Linked DNA regions of Homo sapiens: all the other regions are linked to region 2. Evidence: fine-mapped expression QTL. A gene starts in region 2. Each other region holds a variant in brackets. All regions are shown on one strand. Distances are between the middles of the regions.

Evidence for each region.
Region 1: its variant is fine-mapped to the expression of TEK in whole blood (TOPMed, PIP 0.97).
Region 3: its variant is fine-mapped to the expression of TEK in whole blood (TOPMed, PIP 0.90).
Region 4: its variant is fine-mapped to the expression of TEK in whole blood (INTERVAL, PIP 0.99).

What each region holds. Positions count from the first base shown.
Region 1 is chr9:27,189,769-27,194,920 of GRCh38, forward strand. TEK (TEK receptor tyrosine kinase) reads left to right here. Exons shown (of 23, transcript NM_000459.5): 10 at 761-922; 11 at 2,721-2,855. Among named protein-coding and RNA genes, the nearest start is that of TEK, 83 kb to the left of the region's middle. The variant G/A (reference allele first, on the strand shown) is at 2,911.
Region 2 is chr9:27,106,601-27,111,752 of GRCh38, forward strand. TEK (TEK receptor tyrosine kinase) reads left to right here and starts at 2,625. Exons shown (of 23, transcript NM_000459.5): 1 at 2,625-3,042. The coding sequence starts at 2,991.
Region 3 is chr9:27,224,668-27,229,819 of GRCh38, forward strand. It overlaps TEK (TEK receptor tyrosine kinase), which reads left to right. Exons shown (of 23, transcript NM_000459.5): 22 at 3,539-3,638; 23 at 4,491-5,152. The coding sequence ends at 4,565. Among named protein-coding and RNA genes, the nearest start is that of EQTN, 70 kb to the right of the region's middle. The variant C/T (reference allele first, on the strand shown) is at 2,030.
Region 4 is chr9:27,241,119-27,246,270 of GRCh38, forward strand. It overlaps the pseudogene REXO6P. Among named protein-coding and RNA genes, the nearest start is that of EQTN, 53 kb to the right of the region's middle. The variant CA/C (reference allele first, on the strand shown) is at 2,765.

The sequences.
Region 1 (5,152 bases), 83 kb after region 2:
TAATGCCTTAATTTTAGCACAGTGAGATGCATGTCTGACTTCTGACTTCTAGAACTATAATAAATTTGAGTTGTTTGGCTGAAAGAGAGAGATATATATATATAGAGAGAGAATGAATTATGATCTAGAAGAAAGACCAATATCAAATAATCAAATAATCATACTACAAAGAGTAATAACCCCTAAAAATCACCATGAAGGAAAAGTAGAGGTTCTGTGAAAGTATACAATACCTTAATTCAGTTTCTATGATAGCCACCTGTGAAATATTCACATCAGAGCTAAGAATTAACTGGGAGAATAATGGGAGGTGGAGCATTCCTTGCAGAAGAGAGACATCCACAATCAATCTAAAGAAAGGAGGTTCGTGCTTTGTTAGTTGGATGAAGTGAAAGGTCAGTGGGACTGGAGGGTACTAGGTGAGGGGAAGAGGAGGCTGGAGAGTGGGCAGGGGCTTAATCACTCAAGGCCTGGCTGGTCACGATATGAATTTTTGGTTTTATCCTACATGTGATGAGAATCCATTGAAGGGTCTTGAGCAAAGGGGCACATTTATTTTAAGGAAGCACTTTGAGGATAATGGGTTGGGGAAGCAAAAGCAAAGCAGAGAGCTTAGAGAGCAGGTGATCTCACTGAGTCTGAGCAGAAAACTTTAAGAGGACTTTGTTGGACATGTAAAACATATCTTCTACCTCTACCTAAGAACAATCACAAAACCTCAAAGCCGAAGGACTAATCTGCCTTCTGAAATTGTATTTAGTTCTTCCAAAGCCCCTGAATGCCCCAAACGTGATTGACACTGGACATAACTTTGCTGTCATCAACATCAGCTCTGAGCCTTACTTTGGGGATGGACCAATCAAATCCAAGAAGCTTCTATACAAACCCGTTAATCACTATGAGGCTTGGCAACATATTCAAGGTAAGCTTTGGACAGGATAGATGCCAGCTGGGGATGTGGCACCAGGAGAATTATTTTTCTCCAAATCTAGAAATTCCCTTCTCCCTGCCTCAATCCTCTACCTCAAGGTGGTGGCTGTTGCAGAGGATTCTGTTTCAGAGTATTCAAGAGAGAGTGCAGGGGGCCCCTGAGCTCTGGGGCTAACTTTCTGAAGTCACTGTGCGCTCTAGAACACAGAACCAGCTCACACCATGAGTTACTATCTATATCAATATTTCTTTTTGGATCTCCAGTCCTGTTTTTAGTTATTCTATCTTGGCTGGTCATGGGGAAAGGCACTTGTTTATGCCATGAATATGGTAGCAGGAAAGTCCAGAGCCTGCTGGAAGGGCAGAGAGGCTTAATCTGCCTAAATCCTGGGGGTGATTGTTGCTGCTGTATTGAGTTGTTTATTCCTTTTCTCATTTCATGTCTTGCCCTGTCCTGCAGACTCTTAACACAGAGAGATTTTTGAAGGAATTTGAACCTGCAAAGTTTGGGCTGTGGCAGACTGGAATGGGCTCGGGGGAGGACAAGGACAGGCAAAGGGAGCTACAGACCCCTCCCCTAACTTCCTGAAAGAAAAAAATAATTGAACAAAATGTGACAAAATGCCAAAAGTTCATGAAAACAGTTGAATTTATTTTGAAACACAAATTACAATTATATTTGTTGTATGATAATGTAAAATCACAATTTTAAAAAGCAAAGAGCATTATCAGTGACCATGCTGCTTCAATTGGACTATTCTGTAAAAAGACCTGCCACTAACATGCTTGTAGGCAGCATGTCCTCCTCCGCCCATACCTTTGTCTTACTATGCCTATGATTTCCTTAAAATGACCCTCTATTCACTATATGGAGATAATTAAGAAAACTATGGAAAAAAAAAAAGAGAAGAGGAGGAGGGTTTTGGGCTGAATAACACTAGCTGACCTGGGTAGACCGAATAAAATGGTATTATTACTGAGTCCTTCACATACTATTGTAGATTCTATCAAAATTCAGAATTCCAGGGATGTCAGGCTGATTTGCTGAATTGCTGTTTCCAACATCAATGGCTAGGTCTTTTGCTGTCATATGGTGGTAATAATCCATCACCTTTGTCTACAAGTGGACATCCACAAAGTGGTCTTCTAAGAACTGTTAAACACATCCCAGTTTTTTTTCTTACCAAGTAGGAATTTATCATATGATAAGGCAGAAATTTATCTTTGCAGTATCCATGGAGAAACAGAGGCTGACTAAAGCAAATAGGTAAGGAGAAAAGAGACAGATACCATTTGTTTATGGGTGCTATTTTCAAGGACTTCAGAATGCTTCATTGTAATAGTATGACCATTGCAAATCAGTTTTCTGGTCATTTTGAGCAAACCTCCTAAGCATCTTTTTCTCTCGATAGCTTGATTGCAATCAGTGTACATACTTGAAAACAGTAGCAATTAAATTATTCTAATTGAGTATTCCCCCAATCTGGTATTCCATATAGATTTGTGAGGTTTTATTCTACAAATGAAAAGACAAAAGCACCAGAGCAGAAATGTGTAAGTGGCACAGAAATACACACTTTAATGTGTACATTGTAACCTGGAAACATTTCAAAAGCCTAATTTTCCTCATATTGGGAAGGATGAGGCCTTGAAGATGGAATTGCCTCTCTGTTTCACTAAGACGTAGTTTTGAAAACCTAAAATTAGTTCACATCGCAATAACAACAACCCCGGCTTAAGGAATGTAAGAGAATGCCAACTTAAGTTTCCTGGACGTTTTCTCTTCTCAGTGACAAATGAGATTGTTACACTCAACTATTTGGAACCTCGGACAGAATATGAACTCTGTGTGCAACTGGTCCGTCGTGGAGAGGGTGGGGAAGGGCATCCTGGACCTGTGAGACGCTTCACAACAGCTTCTATCGGTCAGTGGAAGCCAACAGGCATTTATTCATGAGCTGGGTGGGAGGGGGAGGAAGG[G/A]GAAAGAGGAAGGAAGACCAGGAAGGGTGGTGGTGGGTGAGTGGGTGGGTGGGGATGGAGGTGGCAGGAGTTCGCTTTTGAATGGGTGGGAAAGTGACAGGAAGGCTAGCAACTTCAAGCCAAACTGTTCCTTTATTTGGGTTGGACTCCTGGTCTGTCTCCCTGGGGGAGGAGGTCTGCAGCACTCTGTAGGGACAGAGAAGGAAGCAGATGAGCCTTCAGGAAGGCAGGGCCTCCCCTAGGAGCTGGGATTTACACAGCAGCAACTGTGCTGAGCTTCAGCTCCTGCATTTTATCACTGGCTTCCTGTTTCCATCTTAAGGGCCCAGACCAGGCTCTTGCCACAGGCATATTTTAGAAGTCCCAGTTTATTTATTTTCAAAAATAATTTCCAATTTTTCAAAGTAATTCATGGTCAGAGTCATGACATCAAATAGAATAAGAAGCTTTTATCTAAAGAACAGCATTCTCCTGCTCCACCCTCCACCTCCCAGTCCTGCTTCCTATAGGTAGCCACTTTCATCTCCTTAAGCTATTTCTTATATTTACCTCCCTTTTCTAAATCAGTGGTTCTCAAACCTAAGTGTCCATCAGAATCACTCAGAGAGTTTGTTAAAAGATGTTTCTGGGCCTCGTCCCCAGAGTTTCGGATTCAATGGTTTTGAGGTGAGGATGGGGCCGGGGTTCAAAAATTTGCATTTCTAGTAGGTTCCCAAGTGATGCTGCTGGTCCTGGGTCCACACGTTCTAGATAACATGTGTAAAATTACTTCTGGACTTCTCAGTGGTGTTTGGTATTGACTGGCCTTCTATTGCGTTAATTAACTCTGTGAAGCCTCCTTGATGCTAACCTGACCTCCAGCTTTCTGTTACCCAGGTACCCTCCATTGAAATACTGGAGTGATCTTTTGTAAGGTTCCATTCCTGGTTCTTTGAATTGTTCACTGTGTATAACCATTCTGTTACTCTCTCTTGGTCAGTACTTTATACTTTCAACTTCATATATATTTGATTTATATCACCTAGGAAAGTAAGAATTATCATCTTCCCTATTTTACAGATTGAAAAGTAGAGACTCAGAGTACTTAATAACAGTAAGATGCATCACCATACTAAATCTTCGGGCTTCATATCTTTGTCTTTTAGAGCCAGGATCTTGCTCTGTCACTCAAGCTGGAGAGTGCAGTGGTTTGATCAACACTCATTACAGCCTCTATCTCCTGGGCTCAAGTCATCCTCCCACCTCAGCTTCCTGAGTAGCTGGGACTACAGGCACACCACCACATCTGGCTACTTCAAAAAATTTTTTTTGTAGAGACGGGGTCTTGCTTTGTTGCCCAGGCTGGTCTTAAACTCCTGCCTCAAGCAGTCCCCCAGCCTTGGCCTCTCAAAGTGTTAGGATTACAGGGATGAGTCACCACTCCCAGTCCAGGCTCCATATCCTTTTGTTTCTCCAATTATTATTTCTACCTAGAATCCCAAAGGCACCAGCTTATTATCCCAGTTCACATATTTGCCTGTGTTTTACTCCATTTACTAAAAGTAGAAGGATATGTTATGATTGAGTGAAAAAACCAGGAAGAACATCCACTTTTCTTCTGCAGAGATTGTGCACCCTTAACAGAAACATCCTTCCTTCACACCACCCACCTAGTTTTTATGTTACTAGCAGCATCCTTAAAGAACCAAATGAGACTCAAAAGCTACTCTGAGACTTATAGAAGCATTACACACAAGTAAGAAATGGCTGCTTGGGGACCCACCTGGTTGTGAATATAAAAAATAAACCCAGAAACTATATAGAGAGGAAAAAGGGACCTCTACAACCATGACCCAAGGGATCCCTGATATGTCATCATGTTACTGCTAAAAGGCAAATGGTAGTTAATTCTCTCTCAAGTCACTGTTGGTGAGTCAAGAGGGGAAGAGCATAAACTGACTCAGATGGAAAGTATTTATGGAACAGAACATAAAACACTTCACAGCCCCACACTGTACTGTCTTCAGCCCTCAGAATGTGTTGCAGCCAGGAGGTCTCTCAGAATATTTCAAAGTAGTTCTCAGGGGTAGGCGGGAAGGGGATTATTGAAGGTTCTTCTTTTCCCATCATTTGAATTTTGCTGCTGTTTGCTTTTCATTTCGTCTGGCAGTTGCACTGTTTATGTGTGTTGATTGAGATGGTGAAGGCCAGGGAGTCCGGGAGGGGAAGGAAGAGAACACTTTCTGAACATAGTGCAGAAAGG
Region 2 (5,152 bases):
CAAATTTGGGGGCACATATTTGATTTTGGCTTGGTGTATATCATAAAAATGGATTTTCTGGTGGGGCGCAGTGGCTTACACCTGTAATCCCAGCACTTTGGGAGGCCAAGGGGGGGGGGGGGTGGATCATGAGGTTAGGAGTTCAAGACCATCCTGGCCAATATGGTGAAACCCCATCTCTACTAAAAAGTATAAAAATTAGCCGGGTGTGGTGGTGCACGCCTGTAATTCCAGCTACTCAGGAGGCTGAGGCAGGAGAATCGCTTGAACCCAGGAGGCGGACGTTGCAGTGAGCCGAGATAGTGCCACTGCACTCCAGCCTGGGCGACAGAGTGAGACTCTATTTCAAAAAAAAAAAAAACTGGATTTTCTGGGCCAAAGGGTATGCATACAAGGCTTTTGCTTTGTGTTTGTGATGTTGACCTCTTGACATGTGATACCAGTGTATAGTAGTATTATGTAAGTTATTTTCCACCTCTTTCAGAAAAACCGTTTTGTTATCTATTGATACCTTTGTTAATTAGTCTCAAAGACTTTTAATGTTGTCTATAGTGTTTTTCATGTATTGAGTGCAAAAAGCAGGAAATAGAAAATGAAGAATCAGCCAAGAGCCTTGTTTGTTTGTTTAGTTTGGTTTGGTTTTCTTTATGCTTTTACTGTAGGTATGTCTGGAAAAATCAAATTAAATGGAATGAGCTTGACTCATGAGGAGGCCCCTTTCATTTTCCTGAAGTGAATTAATACAGCACCCACCGATCCTGACATTAGTTATTTCAGAAGCACACTAAGAACTGACCGCACTTCTCAGTGTCACCAAACTATTCTTATCTGTCAAAGTTTCATTTCAAATACTTCTGTAAGGTCTAGGTGTACCCTGCTGGTGTTTGTGATGTCCTACATTACTCTTGATCTACTTTTCAACTATGAAACAAGGGAAAAATTGGAGGTCCAGAGCTCAGGATTCAGATATTATTACCTCTGCTACTCACAGCAGAGCAAGTAACTTAGCCTGTGTGGAACTTCATTTTTCTTTCTTTTTTTTCTTTTTTTTTTTTTTTTTTTTAGACAGAGTCTTGCTCTGTCACCCAGGCTGGAGTGCAGTGGCACGATCTCGGCTCACTGCAACCTCTGCCTCCCAGGTTCAAACAATTCTCCTGCCTCAGCCTCCAGAGTAGCTGGGGTTACAGGTGCACGCCAGCAAGCACAGCTAAATTTTGTATTTTTAGTAGAGATGGGGTTTTGCCATGTTGGCCAGGCTGGTCTCAAACTCCTGACCTCAGGTGATCCACTCCCAAAGTGCTGGGATTATAGGCGTGAGCCACTGTGCCAGGCCCACTGTTTTTGTTTTTTTTTTTCGTGATGACAAATTTAAAGTCATCTCATAGGAATAGAAAATAGCTTTTTAGTAGAAGCTCTTGGAATTTAAATTGAGACTGAATGGAAAGATGAAAGAAAATAAACTTATTAACATTTAATGAGAACCTTCAAAGAACTAGGCATAGTACCAAATGGTTTTATATTTTTAAACCTCATTTATTCCTCTCAAAACACCTGGGAAGGAGATATTTTTGCCATTTCACAGCTGTTGAAACTGAGGCTCAAAAAGACTAAGTAACTTTTCTCAGCTACACATGTGGCTGAGCCAGTATTTGAACCCAGTTCTGTTTGCAGACAGAACCTGGGCTTTTTCACACCTGCAAACTGGAAACATTAATTGGTTCTTAAGATCATCATCGATGTGATAAAACCTGGGACAGAAATTAGTCAAGACTAGCTGCATCTGCCTTTTCCTCTGGTGGGTAGGAAAAGGAGGAGTATAATGATTTCCTCAGGCATGAAGGTCGATGATGAGCAAAGTGTATACTCTCTAATCTAATGTCATAATTCATATTGTGGAGTAATTATCTGGATAAGTGTAGGGTCTCTGACCTCATTCTAGATATTGTACATTCCATGGCTATTTTCATTTTGGTCCATGAACTCTCTTTGCTCTCATGAGCACCATTTTTATCCCAATCTAATCCTGTATGTTTGTGTTTTTACACAGATTAGTTTTTAAATGTTATATATAATTTGCTTCTGAAACACCATTGCTCAATGACTACCAAATCTTTCTCATTACCAAAATCCTTCTATGCCAACTTCTTCAAGAAATTTGATCACCTTTAGATGAATTGTTAATGAAAATTAAAGCTATAGCCGGCAACATGGGTATCTTTGGGCTAATGGCCAACCAACAGGCCATCTGTGTGAAAGAAAACAGGCTAACAATTTTGGACTCTGGTCTCTTGGGGCTACATTGAGCATTGACCTCACCGGTGCTCACTGAAATTAATTGCTTTTCAGGTTGTATTTTCTCATCACGGAAACCTTCTTCTCCCAATTCAAACCATGTGGGTTAAAATGAGAAAACAAAAGCCAAAACGGCTTCCCACACCCAAAAGCTCCTTCTGTCAGAGATCCCAGTAGCCCCGGGAGAGCTGTTAGAAGTCTGAGAAGGATTGGTCATCATCGCATACCATACATAGGTGGAGGGCTTGTTATTCTCAGTTTCCCGCCTATGAGAGGATACCCCTATTGTTTCTGAAAATGCTGACCGGGACCCACACTTCCAACAAAAATTCCTCTGCCCCTACAGCAGCAGCAAAAGCAGCAGCAGAAGCAACAGCAACAGATAAGTGTTTTGATGAATTGCGAGATGGATAGGGCTTGAGTGCCCCCAGCCCTGCTGATACCAAATGCCTTTAAGATACAGCCTTTCCCATCCTAATCTACAAAGGAAACAGGAAAAAGGAACTTAAAACTCCCTGTGCTCAGACAGAAATGAGACTGTTACAGCCTGCTTCTGTGCTGTTCCTTCTTGCCTCTAACTTGTAAACAAGACGTAGTAGGACGATGCTAATGGAAAGTCACAAACCGCTGGGTTTTTGAAAGGATCCTTGGGACCTCATGCACATTTGTGGAAACTGGATGGAGAGATTTGGGGAAGCATGGACTCTTTAGCCAGCTTAGTTCTCTGTGGAGTCAGCTTGCTCCTTTCTGGTAAGGTTTGGCTTTATTTTTTTTAATTTAGTATTTTAAAAAACAGAGTTAGTGATTTCTGGGTGCTCTCCCCAAATCTCATCAGTGCTGATGAACAAGGGGTGGCTGTAGCAAAGGCACCATTTCTCTGTGAGTCTCCAGTCAATATGTGTGGAAGGATTGAAATGCAAAGGCTCTGTGGCATGAACTGATTTTGCTAGTTTGTCTTCTGGGTGATTGGCCCCTGTGTTAGAAACTCTTTGAGGACCGATTAAATCATCTTATTTGAAGAGATCCCCTTACTATCATGCATTATTTTCCTGCTCCTCATTCTGGAGTGTTTTTCTTATTGATTTTTTTTTTAAAGAACAAACCGGTTTTACCTGCTTTAAAGAAAATCTTCAGTAAAAAATGAAATTCATGCTGAGAAATACAGGGGCCCAATTAAGGCAGTGTATAGATTGTCACTGTTAAAAGGGAACAAAGATGCTTTTCTGTAAAAAGATTTTATATCTACATCCTATTTTAAGCAAAGCAATGAAATTGTAGGCTTTTTTTTTTTTCTTGTAGTTAGGGTCAGGGAGATTGGGGCTATTAGAATTTTTGTTTTATTTTAAAAAATGTTTGCCATGTAGTAATTCATAAAGGGTTTACTGGCCCAATGAAACAAAAATTTAGGCAGTTACCAAAATCTTTAACACAGGAGAGTATATGAAGCCTGTTGTAGAGTGAAGGAGTGGTTGGCCAGTGTGTTGGGTTCAGCGTGTTTATTGCTTAGATACTCCAGATAGTGGTGTGCCTCTGTAGCTCACTCAGCCTATGTGACATAGGTAGAAGGCAGTATCCAAACCTGAACTACATATCACAAATACATTTATCATTGCCATCAGTCTCTCCCCTTCGGTTTGAAAACATTCTAATTTTAATAACGAAAATCGAATTGATATTGGAGATGAATTTGGGAAAATTCACTAAACTTCATGGATATAGGGCATATTAATATAATTTGATTCGAGTATACATAAGTATCTGCTATATTTTCTAGGTGTTTGAACTATTTTATTAAATATTCAAAAAACAAATCCAATGAAATAACTGAGTTGAATACAGTTTGTTTTATAGCTCTCAACAACCAATATTTTGAGAATTTAATAATATTCTTTAAGAATGTGTAACACAAGTTGCTAAAAATTAAAAGATTTTAGGTGGCTTCAGTATTTATGTGGAAATTGTTTAAATAATGTTGACTTCTCCAATAATATGTACTTCAAATAATTATCATGATTCCATTTTTGATTTTTTTTTTTCTGAGTGCCATTATTTACCAGTGACATGAAATCTGGAACTTACTCTATACCAGGGATTATAGTGATGTGAAGCCCAGGTGTCTATAGTTTCTCTGAGGTACTTTGTAGGTTAATACACACACAACTGTTTTCATTCACTTTTTTTACTCCTAAAGCAACTGTGTTATAGCACTTTGCAATACAGGCTTAGAAGAATTGTCATAAAATCAAACAAAAAGGTATGTAGCCAAAATACTTGTTCCATGTCTAGACCTCAGATCCCTGGAAAAAACAGCACTGCCTTTAAAAGGCAGAGGACCAAGGAGAGGAAGTAGGTTCATGTTCTTGTTAGGAAGGGTGACACTAGCAAGGTTAGTTTCTGAGGTAGGTCTGTTGTCTTGATCGTAGCTTGCATTCCTAGTCTAAGCCTCCATGAGCATGACTGCTCAAGGCTTGATAATTGCAACAAGAATCCAGCTAGATAATGTCCACAGCCATAGGAGCCCGTTCCTCTAGTCAAACTCCTGGTAGACTAAAGCAGTGGAGCAAGGGGCTTATGGCTTAAAGGTTTATCTCTCTAGTCCAGTGGGTTGTTTCTTGTTTCTTTTTTCTGAACCCACAGACTGAAAAAAAAAAAAAGCCACTTTTTTTTAGTGAAGGTGGCTCTGGATGACAGAGTTGTTTACCCATAAGAGGGCTGGAGGGGATGTGTAGCTCTCAGAAGCTCCTTACAAATACTCCTAGATTCTGTTGCTTTCCTTTTCTGAATTGAGAATCATTGCTAACTTCAGCTTTCAAACAGGTTCTATTATATTAGCTTTTCCCTACTCTTCCTCATAAAACCA
Region 3 (5,152 bases), 120 kb after region 2:
CTGGAAGCATTCCCTTTGAAAACCGGCATAAGACAAGGATGCCCTCTCTCGCCCCTCCTGTTCAACGTAGGATTGAAAGTTCTGGCCAGGGCAGTCAGGCAAGAGAAAGAAAGAAAGGGCATTCAAATAGGAAGAGAGGAAGTCAAACTGTCTCTGTCTGCAGATGACATGATTGTATTTCTAGAAAACCCCATTGTCTCAGCCCAAAATCTCTTTAAGCTGATAAGCAACTTCAGCAAAGTCTCAGGATACAAAATCAGTGTGCAAAAATCACAAGCATTCCTATACACCAATAGCAGACAAACAGAGAGCCAAACCATGAGTGAACTCTCATTCACAACTGCTACAAAGAGAATAAAATATCTAGGAATCCAACTTACAAGGGATGTGAAGGACCTCTTCAAGGAGAACTACAAACCACTGCTCAAGGAAATAAGAGAGGACACAAACAAATGGAAAAACATTCCATGCTCATGGACAGGAAGAATCAATATTGTGAAAATGGCCACACTGCCCAGTGTTATCCCCATCAAGCTACCATTGACTTTCTTCACAGAATTAGATAAAACTGCTTTAAATTTCATATGGAACCAAAAAAGAGCCTGCATAGCCAAGACAATCCTAAGCAAAAAGAACAAAACTGGAGGCATCAAGCTACCTGACTTCAAACTATACTACAAGGCTACAATAACCAAAACAGGATGGTACTGGTACTAAAACAGATATATAGACCAAAGGAACAAGACAGAGGCCTCAGGAATAACACCACACATCTACAACCATCTCATCTTTGACAAACCTGACAAAAACAAGCAATGGGGAAAGGATTCCCTATTTAATAAATGGCGTTGGGAAAACTGGCTAGCCATATGCAGAAAACTGAAATTGGACCCCTTCCTTACACCTTATAAAAAATTAACTCGAGATGGATTAAAGACAAACGTAAAATCTAAAACCATAAAAACCCTAGAAGAAAACCTGGGCAATACCATTCAGGACATAGGCATGGGCAAAGACTTCATGACTAAAACACCAAAAGCGATGGCAACAAAAGCCAAAATTGACAAATGGGATCTAATTAAACTAAAGACCTTCTGCACAGCAAAAGAAACCACCATCAGAGTGAACAGGCAACCTACAGAATGGGAGAAAATTTTTGCAATCTATCCTTCTGACAAAGGGCTAATATCCAGAATCTACAAAGCACTTCAACAAATTTACAAGAAAAAAACAACCCCATCAAAAAGTGGGCAAAGGATATGGACAGACACTTCTCAAAAGAAGATATTTATGCAGACAACAAACATGAAAAAAGCTCATCATCACTGGTCATTAGAGAAATGCATATCAAAACCACAATGAGATGCCATTTCACACCAGTTAGAATAGCAATCATTAAAAAGTCAGGAAATGACAGATGCTGGAGAGGATGTGGAGAAATAGGAATGCTTTTACACTGTTGGTGGGAGTGTAAATTAGCTCAACCATTGTGGAAGTCAGTGTGGCGATTCCTCAGGGATCTAGAATTAGAAATACCATTTGACCCAGCCATCCCATTACTGGGAATATACCCACAGGATTATAAATCATTCTACTATAAAGACACATGCACACGTATGTTTATTGCAGCACTGTTCACAATAGCAAAGACTTGGAACCAACCCAAATGCCCATCAATGATAAACTGGATAAAGAAAACGTGGCACATATACACCATGGAATACTATGCAGCCATAAGAAAGGATGAGTTCTTGTCCTTTGGACGGACATGGATGAAGCTGGAAACCAACATTCTCAGGAAACTAGCACAAGAACAGAAGACCAAACATTGCATGTTCTCACTCATAAGTTGGAGTTTAAGGATGAGAACACATGGACACAGGGAGGGGAATATCACACGCCTATCGGGGGGTGGGGGCTAGGGGAGGGATAGCATTAGGAGAAATACCTAATGTAGATGACAGGTTGATGGGTGCAGCAAACCACCATGGCACTTGTATACATATGTAACAAACCTGCATGTTCTCCA[C/T]ATGTATCCCAGAACTGAAAGTATAATAATAAAAAAATAAAGATACATTTTCTTGCCTAGAACCTTGCTTCTGCTAAGATTACTTTCAAAAGTAAGATTTATTCCAAGGGTAAGAATAATGAACTGTAGTGATACCAGCATTCCCAGAACTATCCGTGGTAGAAGCTAACTGGCATGTTTGAAGACTGCAAGGCTCTAGGTTGAGCAGATAATTTATTGTCTAAATGGAGCTACTTCTAAGAGTGAAGGAGGGTGTTAATCTCACTGGAGCAAGAAGCATACATACCATCCTGGAAAAACCTGGACATAGTTGACCATCACTAGACAGTCCCTAAAATTCCACCTTTTGAGATTCACTTCATAAGGGGTGAGAAGATTTTTTAGTCTTTAAGAAACTTATGTTAAAGTGTAAGCTGTTCTGGGATCTGTGACACCCTAAGCCAATGGTTGATAGCCTTCCATGCACATAAGGTTCCCCAGAGTCATTTGTTCAGCATGTGGGCTCTTGGTCCCCACTGTCAGTCATTGATTCTGTAAGTTTAGGGCAGGTTCCAGAATTCTGCATTTTAATAACAGAGTAGTTCTGAGCACAACTGAGTAAGCACTGTCTTAGGTCAGTGTTTCCCAAACTATGTTTTCACGTGTTGTGCAAGATATAAATACATGATGCAAGGGGAAAGGAGTTCTGCGGTCAATTACTTTGGAAACTTTGTGTTAAACCTGTTGTCTTAGTCATTTCCGGCTGCTGTAACAACATACCATAAACATGGTGGCTTATAAACAACAGAGATGTATTTCTCACAGTTCTGAAGGCTGGGAAATCCAAGATCAAAGCGCTAGCAGATTTGGTGGCCATGAGCCATTTCCTAGCTCATAGATGGCCATCTTTCTGCTGTGTCCTCACGTGGCACTAGGGGCAAAAGAGCTCTTTGAGGCCTTTTGTGTAAGAGCACGAATCCCATTCATGAGGGTTCTACCCTCATGACCTGATCACCTCCCAAAGGACCTACCTTCAAACACCATCACATGGTTTCAACACATGATTTTTGGGTGGCATGAACATTCAGTCCATAGCACCTGGTTAAACAGGCATTTTTTTGTTTTTAATGACAGTGCTTCTAAAAGTCCTGCCTCTTAAAGGGACTTTATGTGGGTGGCATTTTACAAGTTTGAGCATGGGCCCTTTAAGAGACACTAACATTTTGAAATATGCAGCATTCCAAGGCAAATGCTGCTCTAGACACATACCCAGTTCTTTCTAGATGATTGCAATAGCTGAGACCAAGGTCCTGCAGAAACAGTACCGAGGGTAGGAACTAAATCTATGAGGAGTTGAAATGAGACTGGCTTAGGGAGGTGGGAGTCCTCATAGAAACTTCCTAGGGGCTGTACTTTGGTTAAGCTTCATAACCATGCATTGGGTGGCTTCATTCTCTCCTCTCTTTTCCTGCCGTGCCTAGGACTGAAGCACAGTTATAGAATTAACCCTTTAATTCTTTGCTTTCGAAGGTATGATCTAATGAGACAATGCTGGCGGGAGAAGCCTTATGAGAGGCCATCATTTGCCCAGATATTGGTGTCCTTAAACAGAATGTTAGAGGAGCGAAAGGTAAGTATTAAAGTCAGGCAGGAGATCTTTAATTGGAATACCTGATGTGCCCAGGGTGGTTCATAAAAAACATTGAAATAATTGAAGAAGTTCTTCTTGGCATGGCCCTAAGTATTATAGAAACAAAGGATGTCCCTCCACCCCCGCGACTTTGAAGAAGTTACAATTTTGGGGGGAAATAAGATTTCTATACAAGATACAGTCACGTACACACTAGAATAACATACAGAATTAGCCTATTAGAGTTGGAAGGAATTTTCGTCATATAGCCTGACCCTTTAATTTTATAGATGAAGAAACAGACTCAGAAGTGGGTGACTTGACCAAGGACACACAGCAAGTAGACAACAGAGCCTGACCTGCAGGTTACTATAATGAGGGTCAGGAACTCCATAAAAATTTCTAGAAGTAAGTTGGCTGTACCGATCTGGGAGTCAAAATAAAAGTAAACACAGTTTAAAGAAATAGTCATCAAAACCCAAGTGGTAATTCAACTAGAGATGCAGGTGAGATCACACAGATGTGAAAATGAGATTCAGACAGAGGAAGGAACCCAGAAGAAGGAACCCTAGGGAAGCTGAACACATTAGGAGGTACCAATAAGACACTGTGAGAAAGGCAAGCTCAGAAACTGAGGATACAGTATGAAATCTTACTTGCAGAACGCAAGGGGATGCATTTTAGGAAGAAAGTCATCAAATACAACAGAGGGACTGAGGACAGAAAAGTATCCCCCAAGTGCTTAGTATATGAGTTGCAACAAACTAAGAAAACCAAGGTATTGCTGTAACTGCCGCTGGCAGAGGTGGAATCAAAGCAGCCTATGTCTCTGAACCATTTTCATTCTTCCAGACCTACGTGAATACCACGCTTTATGAGAAGTTTACTTATGCAGGAATTGACTGTTCTGCTGAAGAAGCGGCCTAGGACAGAACATCTGTATACCCTCTGTTTCCCTTTCACTGGCATGGGAGACCCTTGACACCTGCTGAGAAAACATGCCTCTGCCAAAGGATGTGATATATAAGTGTACATATGTGCTGTACACCTGGGACCTTCACCACTGTAGATCCCATGCATGGATCTATGTAGTATGCTCTGACTCTAATAGGACTGTATATACTGTTTTAAGAATGGGCTGAAATCAGAATGCCTGTTTGTGGTTTCATATGCAATAATATATTTTTTTAAAAATGTGGACTTCATAGGAAGGCGTGAGTACAATTAGTATAATGCATAACTCATTGTTGTCCTAGATATTTTGATATTTACCTTTATGTTGAATGCTATTAAATGTTTTCCTGTGTCAAAGTAAAATATTGTTAATAAACCTAACAATGACCCTGATAGTACAGGTTAAGTGAGAGAACTATATGAATTCTAACAAGTCATAGGTTAATATTTAAGACACTGAAAAATCTAAGTGATATAAATCAGATTCTTCTCTCTCAATTTTATCCCTCACCTGTAGCAGCCAGTCCCGTTTCATTTAGTCATGTGACCACTCTGTCTTG
Region 4 (5,152 bases), 130 kb after region 2:
TACCCACAAAGGGAAGCCCATCAGACTAACAGCTGATCTCTCGGCAGAAACTCTACAAGCCAGAAGAGAGTGGGGACCAATATTCAACATTCTTAAAGAAAAGAATTTTCAACCCAGAATTTCATATCCAGCCAAACTAAGCTTCATAAGTAAAGGAAAAATAAAATCCTTTACAGACAAGCAAATGCTGAGAGATTTTATCACCACTAGGCCTGCCCTAAAACAGCTCCTGAAGGAAGCACTAAACATGGAAAGGAACAACCAGTACCAGCCACTGCAAAAACATGCCAAATCGTAAAGACCATCAAGGCTAGGAAGAAACTGCATCAACTAATGAGCAAAATAACCAGCTAACATCATAATGACAGGATCAAATTCACACATAACAATATTAACCTTAAATGTAAATGGGCTAAATGCTCCAAATAAAAGACACAGACTGGCAAATTGGATAAAGAGTCAAGACCCATCAGGGTGCTTTATTCAGGAAACCCATCTCACGTGCAGAGACACACATAGGCTCAAAATAAAGGGATGGAGGAAGATCTACCAAGCAAATGGAAAACAAAACAAGGCAGGGGTTGCAATCCTAGTCTCTGACAAAACAGACTTTAAACCAACAAAGATCAAAAGAGACAAAGAAGGCCATTACATAATGGTAAAGGGATCAATTCAACAAGAAGAGCTAACTATCCTAAATCTATATGCACCCAATACAGGAGCACCCAGTTTCATAAAGCAAATCCTTAGAGACCTACAAAGAGACTTAGACACCCACACAATAATAATGGGAGACTTTAACACCCCACTGTCAACACTAGACAGATCAACGAGACAGAAAGTTAACAAGGGTGTCCAGGAATTGAACTCAGCTCTGCACCAAGCAGACCTAATAGACATCTACAGGACTCTCCACCCCAAACCAACAGAATATACATTCTTTTCAGCACCACACCACACCTATTCCAAAATTGACCACATACTTGGAAGTAAAGCACTCCTCAGCAAATGTAAAAGAACAGAGATTATAACAAACTGTCTCTCAGACCACAGTGCAATCAAACTAGAACTCAGGATTAAGAAACTCACTCAAAACAGCTCAACTACATGGAAACTGAACAACCTGCTCCTGAATGACTACTGGGTACATAACGAAATGAAGGCAGAAATAAAGATGTTCTTTGAAACCAATGAGAACAAAGACACAACATACCAGAATCTCTGGGACACATTCAAAGCAGTGTGTAGAGGGAAATTTATAGCACTAAATGCCCACAAGAGAAAGCAGGAAAGATCTAAAATTGACACCCTAACACCACAATTAAAAGAACTAGAGAAGCAAGAGCAAACACATTCAAAAGCTAGCAGAAGGCAAGACATAACTAAAATCAGAGCAGAACTGAAGGAAATAGAGACACAAAAAAGCCTTCAAAAAAATCAATGAATCCAGGAGCTGGTTTTTTGAAAAGATCAACAAAATTGATAGACCGCTAGCAAGACTAATAAGGAAGAAAACAGAGAAGAATCAAATAGATGCAATAAAAAATGATAAAGGGGATATCACCACCAATCCCACAGAAATACAAACTACCATCAGAGACTACTATAAACACCTCTATGCAAATAAACTAGAAAATCTAGAAGAAATGGATAAATTCCTCGACACATACACCCTCCCAAGATTAAACCAGGAAGAAGTTGAATCTCTGAATAGACCAGTAACAGGCTCTGAAATTGAGGCAATAATTAATAGCTTACCAACCAAAAAAAGTCCAGGACCAGATGGATTCACAGCCGAATTCTACCAGAGGTACAAGGAGGAGCTGGTATCATTCCTTCTGAAACTATTCCAATCAACAGAAAAAGAGGGAATCCTCCCTGACTCATTTTATGAGGCCAGCATCATCCTGATACCAAAGCCTGGCAGAGACACAACAAAAAAAGAGAATTTTAGATCAATATCCCTGATGAACATTGATGCAAAAATCCTCAATATAATACTGGCAAACCGAATCCAGCAGCACATCAAAAAGCTTATCCAACATGATCAAGTGGGCTTCATCCCTGGGATGCAAGGCTGGTTCAACATAAGCAAATCAATAAACGTAATCCAGCATATAAACAGAACCAACGACAAAAACCATATGATTATCTCAATAGATGCAGAAAAGGCCTTTAACAAAATTCAACAACCCTTCATGCTGAAAACTCTCAATAAATTAGGTATTGAAGGGATGTATCTCAAAATAATAAGAGCTGTCTATGACAACCCCACAGCCTATATCTTACTGAATGGGCAAAAACTGGAAGCATTCCCTTTGAATACTGGCACAAGACAAGGATGCCCTCTCTCACCACTCCTATTCAACATAGTGTTGGAAGTTCTGGCCAGGGCAATCAGGCAGGAGAAAGAAATAAAGGGTATTCAGTTAGGAGAAGAGGAAGTCAAATTGTCCCTGTTTGCAGATGACATGATTGTATATCTAGAAAACCCCATTGTCTCAGCCCAAAATCTCCCTAAACTGATAGGCAACTTCAGCAAAGTCTCAGTATACAAAATCAATGTGCAGAAATCACAAGCATTCTTATACACCAATAACACACAAACAGAGAGCCAAATCATGAGTGAACTCCCATTCACAATTCCTTCAAAGACAATAAAATACCTAGGAATCCAACTCAAAAGGGATGTGAAGGACCTCTTCAAGGAGAACTACAAACCACTGCTCAATGAAATAAAAGAGGATACAAATACATGGAAGAA[CA/C]ATTCCATGCTCATGGGTAGGAAGAATCAACAATGTGAAAATGGCCATAGTGCCCAAGGTAATTTATAGATTCAATGCCATCCCCATCAAGCTACCAATGACTTTCTTCACAGAATTGGAAAAAACTACTTTAAAGTTCATATGGAACCAAAAAAGAGCCCTCATTGCCAAGTCAATCCTAAGCCAAAAGAACAAAGCTGGAGGCATCACACTACCTGACTTCAAACTATACTACAAGGCTACAGTAACCAAAACAGCATGGTACTGTTACCAAAACAGAGATATAGACCAACGGAACAGAACAGAGCCCTCAGAAATAACGCCGCATATCTACAACCATCTGATCTTTGACAAACCTGACAAAAACAAGCAATGGGGAAACAATTCCCTATTTAATAAATGGTACTGGGAAAACTGGCTAGCCATATGTAGAAAGCTGAAACTGGATCCCTTCCTTACACCTTATACAAAAATTAATTCAAGATGGATTAAAGACTTAAATGTCAGACCTAAACCCATAAAAACCCTAGAAGGAAACCTAGGCAATACCATGCAGGACATAGGCATGGGCAAGGACTTCATGTCTAAAACACCAAAAGCAATGGCAACAAAAGCCAAAATTGACAAATGGGATCTAATTAAACTAAAGAGCTTCTGCACAGGAAAAGAAACTACCATTGGAGCGAACAGGCAACCTACAGAATGGGAGAAAATTTTTGCAATCTACTCATCTGACAAAGGGCTAATATCCAGAATCTACAATGAACTCAAACAAATTTACAAGAAAAAAAACAAACAACCCCATCCAAAAGTGGCCAAAGGATATGAACAGACACTTCTCAAAAGAAGACGTTATGCAGCCAAAAGACACATGAAAAAATGCTCATCATCACTGGCCATCAGAGAAATGCAAATCAAAACCACAATGAGATACCATCTCACACCAGTTAGAATGGCGATCATTAAAAAGTCAGGAAACAACAGGTGCTGGAGAGGATGTGGAGAAAAAGGAACACTTTTACACTGTTGGTGGGACTGTAAACTAGTTCAACCATTGTGGAAGTCAGTGTGGTGATTCCTCAGGGATCTAGAACTAGAAATACCATTTGACTCAGCCATCCCATTACTGGGTATATACCCAAAGAATTATAAATCATGCTGCTATAAAGACACATGCACATGTAAGTTTATTGAGGCACTATTCACAATAGCAAAGACTTGGAACCAACCCAAATGTCCAACAATGATAGACTGGATTAAGAAAATGTGGCACATATACACCATGGAATACTATGCAGCCATAAAACATGATGAGTTCATGTCCTTTGTAGGGACATGGATGAAGCTGGAAACCATCATTCTCAGCAAACTATAACAAGGACAAAAAACCAAACACCGCCTGTTCTCACTCATAGGTGGGAATTGAACAATGAGAACACATGGACACAGGAAGGAGAACATCACACACCGGGGCCTGTTGTGGGGTGGGGGCAGGGGGAGGGATAGCATTAGGAGATATATCTAATGTTAAATGACGAGTTAATGGGTGCACCACACCAACATGGCACATGTATACATACGTAACTAACCTGCACGTTGTGCACATGTACCCTAAAACTTAAAGTGTAATAAAAAAATGTAGTAACTCAACCTCAACAGCGCTTTTCCTCTTCTTCTCTTTGAAAGTGTCCAGAAACCCCATACCATCATCGACCAAACTCTACTGCCAGTAGTAGGGGCCAGAGAAGTCACCGAAACAGCAATTCAGAAATTAAAGATGTTCTTGGGCAAGGTGACTACTTCTTTCCTTTCACGTCTTCTTTTACCTTCCAAATGACCAGATCCATGCAGGCTTTTGCATTTTCACTAGCATTGTGACCTCCAAATAGTACAGAATATTTTTTAAAGTGTTAGACATAAGACAACCATAATCTCTGATGTTACTTACATATTTCTCAAAATTAAGCCTTCAATTTATGTTTCTAACAAAGTTAACACTGCTCACCTATCGAAATATCATTAATACCTAATACAACCTCCAATGATTGCTTTATAAATGTTTTACATGAATGTACTAGATTAACAAACATTGTTCTTTTTCTAGGTAGTCTTTCCTCTGTCACATTATCACTACCTTGCAATGATTGGCTAGCACATCGGTACCCTCAGCTGTGTATCTCCTTCCCAGGGAGGTATGAGAAGAAAGTGGAGGGATCACCAAAGCAAGACATCTGCCTAGAAGCCAGAAATGTCGAATGGTTAAAAAAAGAAAAAAAAAAGTAATCTCTCTAAATAAAAGAACAACTTTAGGCACAAGTTTATATGGTTTTAAAAAGTAGATAAAATTTACCCAAAACATAAAGCTGTATAGTTCTGGTGAGAATAAT